Regions from separate parts of the Homo sapiens genome. Here region 2 is linked to region 1. A link means that fine-mapping ties the variant in region 1 to the expression of a gene that starts in the linked region. Tissue or cell type: adrenal gland. Region 1 holds a variant in brackets; the other region holds the start of a gene. All regions are shown on one strand. Distances are from middle to middle.

Evidence for each region. PIP is the estimated chance that this variant, and not a neighbour inherited with it, causes the effect. A credible set is the group of variants that fine-mapping cannot tell apart.
Region 2: it holds the start of LTK, and the variant in region 1 is the best candidate, but not a certain one, in a credible set for the expression of LTK in adrenal gland (GTEx, PIP 0.54).

The regions. Positions count from the first base shown.
Region 1 is chr15:41,909,036-41,914,403 of GRCh38, reverse strand. It overlaps EHD4 (EH domain containing 4), which reads left to right. Exons shown (of 6, transcript NM_139265.4): 5 at 4,541-4,705. Among named protein-coding and RNA genes, the nearest start is that of EHD4-AS1, 9.7 kb to the left of the region's middle. The variant G/A (reference allele first, on the strand shown) is at 2,706.
Region 2 is chr15:41,511,221-41,516,588 of GRCh38, reverse strand. It overlaps LTK (leukocyte receptor tyrosine kinase), which reads left to right and starts at 2,762. Exons shown (of 20, transcript NM_002344.6): 1 at 2,762-2,922; 2 at 3,469-3,612; 3 at 3,711-3,882; 4 at 4,324-4,474; 5 at 4,626-4,772; 6 at 5,011-5,167; 7 at 5,243-5,368. The coding sequence starts at 2,880. RefSeq lists a silencer at 3,397-3,476 and an enhancer at 3,183-3,930.

The DNA.
Region 1 (5,368 bases):
TTGGGTCTCAGGCTTATTAACTGAATTTTTTATATTATCATAAACCCACTTTATAAACGTGCTGATACCCTGGCTTTAAATACTCTATGCAGGTTTCCAGAGCTGGGCTTCCAGCCGCAGGTCTCCAGCAGGTTGCGTTAAGTTTGCAGATGAGCGTGGCACAGTGTGTCACCATGCCTTCCCAGCCCGCCTTCCCCAAACTACTGCCTGATCCTCACATTCCATGAAGCTTTTCATTCCAGCACTGGTCGCTTCCAGCATCCAGCACTCGCTGAAGTTACCCTCCAAGCCCAGAGTAGATGTGGCCAGTATCACTCTTTAGTACATGTGTCTCAGTCTTGGAGGCACACACACACACACACATCATTGGACACAATGAGATCTGTGTCAGAGTGTACGTGTGAACTACATATACATTCATATACATTTAAAAGGAAGGACTTTCCTTTCTGCTCATTGAGTTATTAGCCTAGAGAAAAATTGTCATTTTGTCATTTTGATCCATTTGATTTCCCCCAGTCATCCCCATTAGATGCCTTAGGGCTTCTGCAAGTTTACACAAGGCAAAGGATGACTTGAACAAGATACGAATGTTCAAAAGCCCCCAGGGGTCAATGTAAATTAAACACTTGGAACCCAAATTCATTATATTACTATTTAAATAGAGAGAGTTTATTAATTATTTGGTAAGGAGTAACCAGCCGGGAGCCCTCTCTCTCATTACTGTACCTCCAGCTGTTGGTCTTTGGCCATTAGTTGATAACAAGTTAACATTTGCTCCTCTTTCTAGTGAGCAGAGTGCATTCAAATACATGACCTCTTTTATTCTCATAATAACTCTGTGAGATGAATGTTGTTGTCATTTCTAATTTGTGGATGAGCACGCTGAGGTGGAGATGCCATGCCTGGCCCCAAGTTGCTCAGTGGGTAGGCAGTGGTCACGGGGCCTGAGCCTCATCTTCAAGCTCCAGGTCTAGTCCCCCTCTTCTCTTTCGTACTCCTCCTCTTCCCAATTAGTTTTCTCTCATTATAAAGGTCAGAAGACCCAAGTGTTTCCACCTCCTTCCCCAGGGACAACCACCAGGTCTGGCCCTGGGTCTGGCATGTATTTGGAGACACCTTTGACACATAATTGCAGGAGTGATCTCTGGAGGCTGACTGTGGATTTTAGTCATTCAAGCTGTCCCGTCTGTTTACCAGAAGACTTTAGAAAATGACAGGATGCCATCCTGCCAGCAGCTCGCAGTCTTCACCCGCATTCCCACGTGGTGTCCCGACGTTTGTGTGCCATCATTGTGTCCGTGTTTGATGTGTGGGGAAAGGGAGAATAAAGGACCCTTCCAAAGCCTCTCAGTGAATTAGGCACGAGCAGAAGTCAAACCTCAGATCAAAGTTTTCCAGACTCATTCTATGGGACACAGTTCATTTTGAATTCCAGATTTTGAACAACTTCAGTAAGATTATTAATGCATACCCACAGGGCATACCCACAGGGAGTCATTAGTTCTTTAGGGACAGGAACGAGGCACTTGGATGCTAGTGCCAGCTCTGTATCTACCAACTAGCTGTATGACCTTGAGTGAGTCACATGGATGTCCTGGAACCAGGAATTAAAGTAGATATTGGGGGGTCACTTCCAGATTCAGTATTTCATGATGCTAAGGATTATAATTTACCTTGTGACTTGATGAATTTTTTTTTCTTTTTTTGAGATGGATTCTTGCTGTGTCACCCAGGCTGGAGTGCAGTGGGGCAATCTCAGCTCACTGTGACCTCTGCCTCCCGGGTTCAAGCTATTCTCCTGCTTCAGCCTCCCGAGTAGCTGAGACTATAGGAGCACACCACCACACCCAGCTAATTTTTGTATTTTTAGTAGAGACAGGGTTTCACCACATTGGCCAGGCTAGTCTCAAACTCCTGACCTTAAGTGACCCACCTGCCTCAGCCTCCCAAAGTGCTGGGATTACAGGCATGAGCCATCGTGCCTGGCCAACTTGATGAACTTCTGAAAGCAGGTCTGTGCACAGAAGTTGGCCCTGGGTTATTGTTTAGGGCGCACCAGGAAGGGCAGGACGCGGGTGGACATGCAGAGGCAGCGTAACAGGAGACTTCCACAAACCTCGCTAACAGAACTTCCTAGAAGTGGAGGCTGGGACCGAGAGCAGCTGCAGTGTGAGCAGGTCACCTAAGGGTCATGACTCAGGTGGCACCAAGCTGGCGGAAGGAGGAGGGAGTTGAGACCTGGCACAAGATCAGCCCCAGGTTTATCAGGGCTGTGAAGGCCTAGTGTCGGGGCCACCTCGGTCATCAGCCAGCAAACACCATGAGGCCTGAGACGAGGGATCAGGTGACACTCAGTGGGTGAAGGGTGTGGCAGGTGCACATCAGCTGAGTTCAGTGCAGGTAAAGCAGGCCCTGGGCACCAGGGAGTGTTCAGGAACAGTGTGCCCAACCTCGGGGGGTGGGCGGCAGGGAGTGGGTGAGGAGTCAGCCAGATGAGCGGGAACTAAGCCCTCCCTGAGCTGGGGCCTGGCGGCTCAGAGGTACCTTACTAGTACGTGGTGAGGGCTCTTGGGAAGCCCTACAGAGGCCTAGGCAGCTGCTCCAGGGCTAGGCCCCAGAGCAGGGAAGGGGGTGGTCTCAATAAGAAGCCCTTGTGTTTGGGAGACTGAGCAGCTGTGGGGGCCTCCTGCTTCCCTTGGGGT[G/A]GCTCCAGGGTGGGGTGAGCCTGAGCACAGAAGAGAGAGGTATACATAGGTATACATAGAGAACATACTCATAGGCCCAATCCAGAATTTCCAGGAAGGTGGAGGCCAAGGAAATGATGCAAGGACAGCTGGTGAGCAGCTGGTTCTCCCTGATGGAACGTGGCAGCTCCTCCAGTCCAAGGGTGCTCCCTCAGCCCTGGCCCTCCCCAGCCCACCCACACCAAGCCAGGCATTCACTGTCGGAGGCAAAGGAGTTGGTATCTTACCACTTGCTCATCACAGCGGTTAAAGCCCAGGATTCTAAATAACGGATCCCAAACTTCGGGTTTCTCAAGTTATCTCTAAGAATCTTGTAAATCATTTCAATTGTCTTCATTTGAAAAATAAGTACATAAACAAGTTTGCTGGTGACAGAAAGGTTTAGCGTCATCTCTCCAAGACCATCCTCTCAGCGGTAGCCAGGCTGCACAGTGCATGCTTCTGTTAAACGACCCTTGTGCAGATGGGAAGTTGACATTGTCTGACCTCAGCATGTCAGACCTTGCATTAGGTACTTAGGTTAGCATCCAAATCCTCACAAAATGTTTTTGGCTGTGTCCAGCATGTGTCCACACACGGGCCCTCAGCTGAGCTATGGAATGTATCTGCTTACCCCCTTTATTTAATTTCAACTTCTACAAGATTACAGTAGAAGTCTGTTTTCTTTAATAGGATTTTCCGTTGCTACATAGTCATTTTCTTTTTGTAATCACCACTCTGTTTTTCATCCTTTCTTATTTTAGTTACTTACTTGACTTCACAATTACTCTGAAGTTCAAGATATACAAAGTAGCCGGGCATGGTGGTTCATGCCTGTAATCCCAGCACTTTGGGAGGCCAAGGTGGGTGGATCACCTGAGGTCAGGAGTTCGAGACCAGCCTGGCCAACATGGTGAAACCCCGTCTCTACTAAAAATACAAAAATTAGCCAGGCGTGGTGGTGCACACCTGTAATCCCAGCTACTCGGGAGGCTGAAGCAGGAAAATCGCTTGAACCAGGAGGTGGAGGTTGCAGTGAGCCAAGATCACGCTGTTCCACTCCAGCCTGGGCAACAGAGCGAGATTCCATCTCAAAAATATATATATACAAAGAGAACTTTTGTAGTGAACATTTCTTAATATCCTGAAGTTGGAAATCAGTAGAAGAGTGGAAATGTTGAGGCCAGATTCTCGCCCCTCCAATGACAGCCTGCTGGCTACCCCAAGCCCCAGTGATCAAGGTTTCTGGGGCTTCTGGGCTCCTCTCCCAGGGGGATCTTCTGCCATCCAGCCTGATCCCAGGCAGCTGGTCTTGTGCAGAATGACTTTAATTCCACCTGTAGAGATCTCAGAGTCTAAACCTCCCATAACAGGGGGGTTATGGGGATTCTCATCTCATCGTTCACTGGGTACAGATTTCCATGTTGATCAGCCATTGATGCCAGCCTCCAGTTTCATTTCCTGTTGCTCCCAGGCACCAGCCTGGTGAAACTTTCTCCTGGGTATTCTGGTTAATTGCCAGAACTAAGAGCTCTCCCACCCAGGCCCCACCCATACCACTCACTCCCTACAGACACCAGAATTGCCACTCAGAGGCACAACAGAACAGTAGCCGTAGAATTTCCCCAAGTCTGGCCACATTCCGGCCACCCTTGGACAGCTCCACTCCCCCTGGACCCTCCCCTCCTCCTGTCCTTGGGACCTGGTTTGTGTGGGTACCTGTTATGTGTTATGATGGAGTTAAGATGCAATCTTGTTTGTTCCTTCTCTGATGCAATTCTAAATGACACTTCCCTGCCTGATCTATACCCCTCCAGGTGCATGCCTACATCATCAGCTACCTGAAGAAGGAGATGCCAAGTGTATTTGGAAAGGAAAACAAGAAGAGAGAGCTTATCAGCAGGCTACCGGAAATCTACATTCAGCTACAGCGAGAATACCAGATTTCTGCAGGGGACTTCCCTGAGGTCAAGGCTATGCAGGTACTGGGAGCCCACTACAATGTCACGGGCAGAGGGCAGAGGTGCAGTGCCACATTGTCTGGCTGTTTGCTGGAGACAAATGAGAGTCCCATGGTTTAGGATCAAGGACAACGCATCTTCCTAATGGTGATCCATGATAATAGGCTATGAATAAAGCAGAAATTGCCTGTCTTCCAAAATGCGTAAACAAAGGAAACACATGGCCAAAGGTAAATGAAGCTCCCATGAGAAAGTCAGGTGAGCAGCCCTCTTAGACTGTGTCCAAGGAGGCTGGTTGATGTTGCGGTGACATTGGAATCCCAGAACTGTGAGGGAATCACAGCTGGGAGTGGCCTTCAGGGTCACCTTGGGCGGCCTCCTCCAGCCCTGCCCTGACCTGCCTCACGCCGTGGGATTATGTGCTCAGGCAGCCTTGCTGCTGCAGGCTCAAGGGCTCCAGCAGGGGCTGTGGGGCTCTGCGGACGCTGCTGGACTGCGTGGGCACAGGGAGGACTGTGCTTAAAGGCTGGTGCTGGGCAGCCATTGGCCTGCTGTCAAGGCCTCTCTTGAGTTGTGGCTGGGCAGCTCCAGCCAGGCAACAATGGGTGCTGCATTCAGCCGTCCTGCCCTGACCGGCATATCTACCTCTCTGCACTGCTGTTAGACGAGCGTGTCCTCACAAGC
Region 2 (5,368 bases), 400 kb after region 1:
CCCAAAGTGCTAAGATTACAGGCATGAGCCGCTACACTTGGCCTATTTTGGTAGTTTCTACATTGTTCTTTGGTCTGAATTCTAAACTTTAGGCTTTCTTAGACTGTCTTTTGCTGTGTGGATTACTTATTGTGTTTGCAAGTAACCAGAGTCAGAGCAGTGTGCCAAGGCCTAGCCCTGTCAGTAGGTAGAGAGAACCCAGTCTTCATAAATGGAGCTGCTGAACACAGAATTATCCAATAGGTTTTTTTGGGTTTTTTTTTTTTTTTTTTTGACACGAAGTCTTGCTCTGTTGCCCAGGCTGGAGTGCAGTGGGGCAATCTCAGCTCACCACAACCTCCCCCTCCCTAGTTCAAGCCATTCTCCTGCCTCAGCCTCCCAAGTAGCTGGGATTACAGGCGCGTGCCACCACGCCTGGCTAATTTTTGTATTTTTAGTAGAGATGGGGTTTTGCCATGTTGGCCAGGCTGGTCTTGAACTCGAACTCCTGACCTCATGATCCGCCCGCCTCAGCCTTCAAAAGTGCTGGTATTACAGGCATGAGCCACTGGGCCCAGCCTTTTTTTCTTTTTTTTTTTTGAGACAGAGTCTTACTCTGTAGCCCAAGCCAGAGTGTAGTGGCATGATCTTGGCTCACTGCAACCTCCGTTTCTGAGGCTCAAGTGATTCTCATGCCTCAGCCTCCCGAGTAGCAGGGGCTACAGGCATGCACCACCACACCGGGCTAGTTTTTTGTATTTTTATTAGAAGCGGTGTTTTGCCATGTTGCCCAGGGTGGTCTCAGACTCCTAAGCTCAGGCAATCCGCCCACCTCAGCCTCCTAAAGTGCTGGGATTATAAGTGTGAGCCACAGCATGTGGCCCCAATAGGTTTTATTAAGCAACTACTGTATCAGCAAATACCAATGATTCTCAAACTTTGTGACAAAAATCATCTGGAGGATATTTTAAAACAGATCACTGGGTCCTACCACCAGAAGCTGCTGATTCAGTACATCTGGGGTGAAACCCAAGAATCTGCATTTCTAACAAGTTCCCAGGTAATACTGATGCTGATGTTCAGAACAAACCACACAACCACAATTTGAAGAGCAGTGGCTTAAAGAGACTTTGCAAGGTAAATTCTGTGATCTCATAGTGTGATATCTAGTGTTAAGTAGGGCATAGAGACCAGGGTTTTTTTGTTTTTTGTTTTTTTTGAGATGGAGTCTCACTCTGTCACCCAGGCTGGAGTGTAGTGGTGCAATCTCGGCTCACTGCAACCTCTGCCTTCCAGGTTCAAGCAATTCTCTGCCTCAGCCTCCCAAGTAGCTGGGATTACAGGCACCTGCCACCACGCACGGCTAATTTTTGTATTTTTAGTAGAGACGGGGTTTCACCATCTTAGCCAGGCTGGTCTTGAACTCCTGACCTTGTGATCCACCCCACCCCCACCGTCCCCTTGGCCTCCCAAAGTGCTGGGATTACAGGTGTAAGCCACCACGCCTGGCTGAGACCAGACTTTTTACAAAATCACTGTTCTGTTTACACCTTGAATTATACTCAGACTTTACCAAGTAGCTAACTACTATAACTTCTCTTTTGAAGTATTTTGTATTAAACATAGGTCTCAGACTTTCAAGTTAGGATTTTTTTTTTTTTTTTTTTTTTGAGATGGGGCTTTGCTCTTGTTGCCCAGGCTGGAGTGCAATGGTGCGATCTCGTCTCTGCAACCTCTGCCTCCCAGGTTCAAGCCATTCTCCTGCCTCAGCCTCCAGAGTAGCTGGGATTACAGGCGTGCGCTACCACGTGTGTCTGATTTTGTATTTTTAGTAGAGACGGGATTTTGCCATGATGGTCTAGCTAGTCTCGAACTCCTGACCTCAGGTGATCTGCCCGCCTCAGCCTCCCAAAGTGCTAGGATTACAGGCATGAACCACCGCACCCGGCAAATGATCATTTAAGCAAATGATCGAAGACTCAAGACACAAAACTACCTGAAGGGAGTGGCTCCCACATTTGTAGGGTACCTTACAGAGCAATTTCCCTTCATATGATTTTGCAGGTGGTGGGGAAACTCTCAGGGCAGTTGTGGCCTGTGCTACATCACCCATTGACCAGAGGTGCCAGTACTAGTGCTCAAGATCAATCGATCGATCGGTCTACCTACCTATCATCTATTGACCTTCAGTGCTACTAAAAACACTCGGATCTTCTAACGTCTGGTCCAGTCTTTCACCCCATCACAGTGAGAGGCTGTGCACAGGGGTAACACAGGCAACGGAATTATATGAGGCAAACACAGAGATCCAGGTTTCTGGGAGTAGCAATGAGGTTCAGCCTTGCAGTCACAAAGGCACCACTAAAAGGCACAAGTAATGGCAGGTAATGAGGCCTTACTTGGAGCAGTTTAGAGTACTTCCCACGTGTGGTGACGCATGCCACACACTCACCACCACCACCACTGCCACAAATGAAGTGCACACTCCACTGCTCCTGTCCTCAGGAACCTGGAAGCCCCCACCTGGTGTCCGAGGTGTGGCTCCCACTTTAAGCGTGGGGCACCTCCTCTCCGGCCTCAAACCTACCGGAGCTCCCAGCAGGCTGCGGCACATCTGACGGCTGGAAACTAGAACCCCTGGGTGGGGACTCCTTAAGGCTCCTCCCGGAAGCGTAGGGACCTCGCTGCCCACACGCCCCTCCCTTTCCTCCTCTGGCGTCCTGGGGTCTGAGGTGGGCGTGGCCAGACCAGCTTTAGGTCCGGGGAGTGTCTCGCCAGCGGCAGCACACCCCTGTAAGTGGTGGCCAGGGCTGCCGTGGCAAAATGAGCTGTCAACTTTAGGTTGACAGGGGTGTGGCCGCGACCGCAAGGGCTTTTGTTGCCGGGTGGACCCAACAGGGATGGGCTGCTGGGGACAGCTGCTGGTGTGGTTCGGAGCCGCGGGTAAGTGCTATCTGGCGGTCAGGGGACCGTCCAGCCTGAGGCACTTTCCTAGGCTTGGGGGTGGCCGGTCAACAGGCCAGGTGTCAGTGGTTCCTCCAGAGGCCTCGAACTCTCACAGCCAAATTTCTCCGGTCCGTGCTTCTGGAGTGCGGGCCGAGAAGCGCCAAGTGCGTGCGAATCCCAGAGTCTGGATCACGCAGCTTGGGAAGGAGGAACATTCTTTGGGGTCTCAGCACCGCCTTGGGGCGGGGCCACCAATCTAAGTTGAGGAAAGCATTGGGGAGGCTGCAGGACCAAATTCATTGCGGCCCCTAAGTTATTCACTGGGAAAGGCGCTCGAGGAGAGAAACTGGCAGACCTATCAGCGCGCACCCGCGGGGCTTCTGCGACCGGAGTCGGGTAGTGGCTTCCAGGCTGAGAGCGCGGCTGGGCCGGGTGACGGGTGTGGCCGCGACCGCAAGGGCAGCTGTTGCGGGGTTCTCTCTTTCTTTCATATCCTATTTCCACCCGCCTTAACGTCCTGCGCCTTCTCCCAACACCTTTCAGGCGCCATTCTCTGCTCTAGCCCGGGGTCCCAGGAGACTTTTCTGCGGTCCTCGCCCCTGCCGCTGGCAAGTCCCAGCCCCCGGGACCCGAAAGTCAGCGCCCCGCCTAGTATCTTGGAGCCAGCCTCCCCGCTGAATTCTCCGGGTGAGCTTTAGACGCCTCCTTCCTCTTTCGCTCACCATACCAGACCCCTCTGGCCCAGCCAGGGGCTCGACGACCCTTGCCTCGCTCCTTGCTCTCAGGCACCGAGGGGTCTTGGCTGTTTTCTACCTGCGGGGCCAGCGGCCGGCATGGGCCCACACAGACACAATGTGACGGGGCGTACGCGGGGACCAGCGTGGTGGTGACCGTGGGGGCCGCCGGGCAGCTGAGAGGCGTGCAGCTGTGGCGCGTGCCGGGCCCTGGCCAGTATCTGTAAGTGCACGGCGGAGGTAGGGTGGACAGTGACCTGCTAGTTGGAGGTTTCACCCTCAGGGTAACGAAGTCCACGTGCGCACCGACTTGCGTCTTGGACTATTCCGCGGGGAGGTCCACCTTGAGTGCCCTTCAAGGTGGCAGTAGTCGCCACCGAGTTAGCCCTTACCCGGAACCTCTTACACCGAGCGGAAGGCCCCCAACCAGGGCGGCGCCAAGGGGTGCTTGAGCCTCCCCACATTTCCACGAACCCTCCTGAAATAAGTGTAATATCTGATTTTTCGGTGTGCAAACCTACCCTTCCCATCCCGTCAGAGTCGATTGCAGCCTCCAAGTCCCTCAGATAAAAAATAATTCTGGAGCCTCCTCTGTCGCCAACTTCTGCCCGGAGCGGCCGGCCTGAGCACCGAAGGCCGGGGACTCACCGTCCGTTCCCCGCAGGATCTCAGCCTACGGAGCCGCGGGCGGCAAAGGCGCCAAGAACCACCTGTCGCGGGCGCATGGCGTCTTCGTCTCAGCAATCTTCTCCCTCGGTCTCGGGGAGTCGCTGTACATCCTGGTGGGGCAGCAGGGAGAGGACGCCTGTCCCGGAGTGAGCGCAGCCAGTGGGGATGGGGCGGCGCCGGCGCCGGGGGCGAGGGCTGCCTGGGGGCCGGGGGAGCGTGCTTTCCTCGGTGCCGGGTCACCAGCACAGCGAGGGGAGGCTCCCGGGCCCCGCCGATTCCCTCCCCCGCTGCCCGCAGGGTAGCCCGGAGAGCCAGCTCGTCTGCCTCGGGGAGTCTCGAGCCGTTGAAGAGCACGCGGCGATGGATGGGAGCGAAGGGGTCCCGGGGTCGCGGCGCTGGGCGGGAGGTGGCGGGGGTGGCGGGGGCGCCACCTACGTTTTCCGGGTACGTGCTCCCTTCGGCGCTCAGCGTTGGGGTCCCAATCCTCTCCCCAGGGGCGCTCACGCACCGGCTCTCCGTCCGTCCCTTGGGGTCCCCCTATCCCTGCGCTGGGCTGGGCTGGCCTGGGCTGGGCTGGGGGCCCCTGCCCTTATCCAGGCCCCCTGGGCGGGAGCCCTCTCCCAGTGGCAGTGCCCCTGGACAGCTGGAGGGCGCTTCCTGGAACACGCCGCTGGCCCCACAGGTGCGCGCTGGCGAGCTGGAACCGTTGCTGGTGGCGGCCGGAGGCGGCGGTCGGGCCTACCTGAGGCCGCGGGACCGAGGCCGGACTCAGGCCTCCCCCGAGAAACTGGAGAACCGCTCGGAGGCGCCCGGGAGCGGCGGGAGAGGCGGGGCGGCAGGTGAGGGCGCGGGCCGCGGGGAGAGGCGGGCGTGCTCCCCGTGTGGCTGCCAACCTTCCTGCTGTCGCTCTGCAGGTGGTGGGGGCGGCTGGACGTCGCGGGCTCCCTCTCCGCAGGCCGGCCGCTCACTGCAGGAGGGGGCGGAGGGCGGCCAGGGCTGCTCCGAGGCTTGGGCGACCCTTGGCTGGGCCGCGGCCGGCG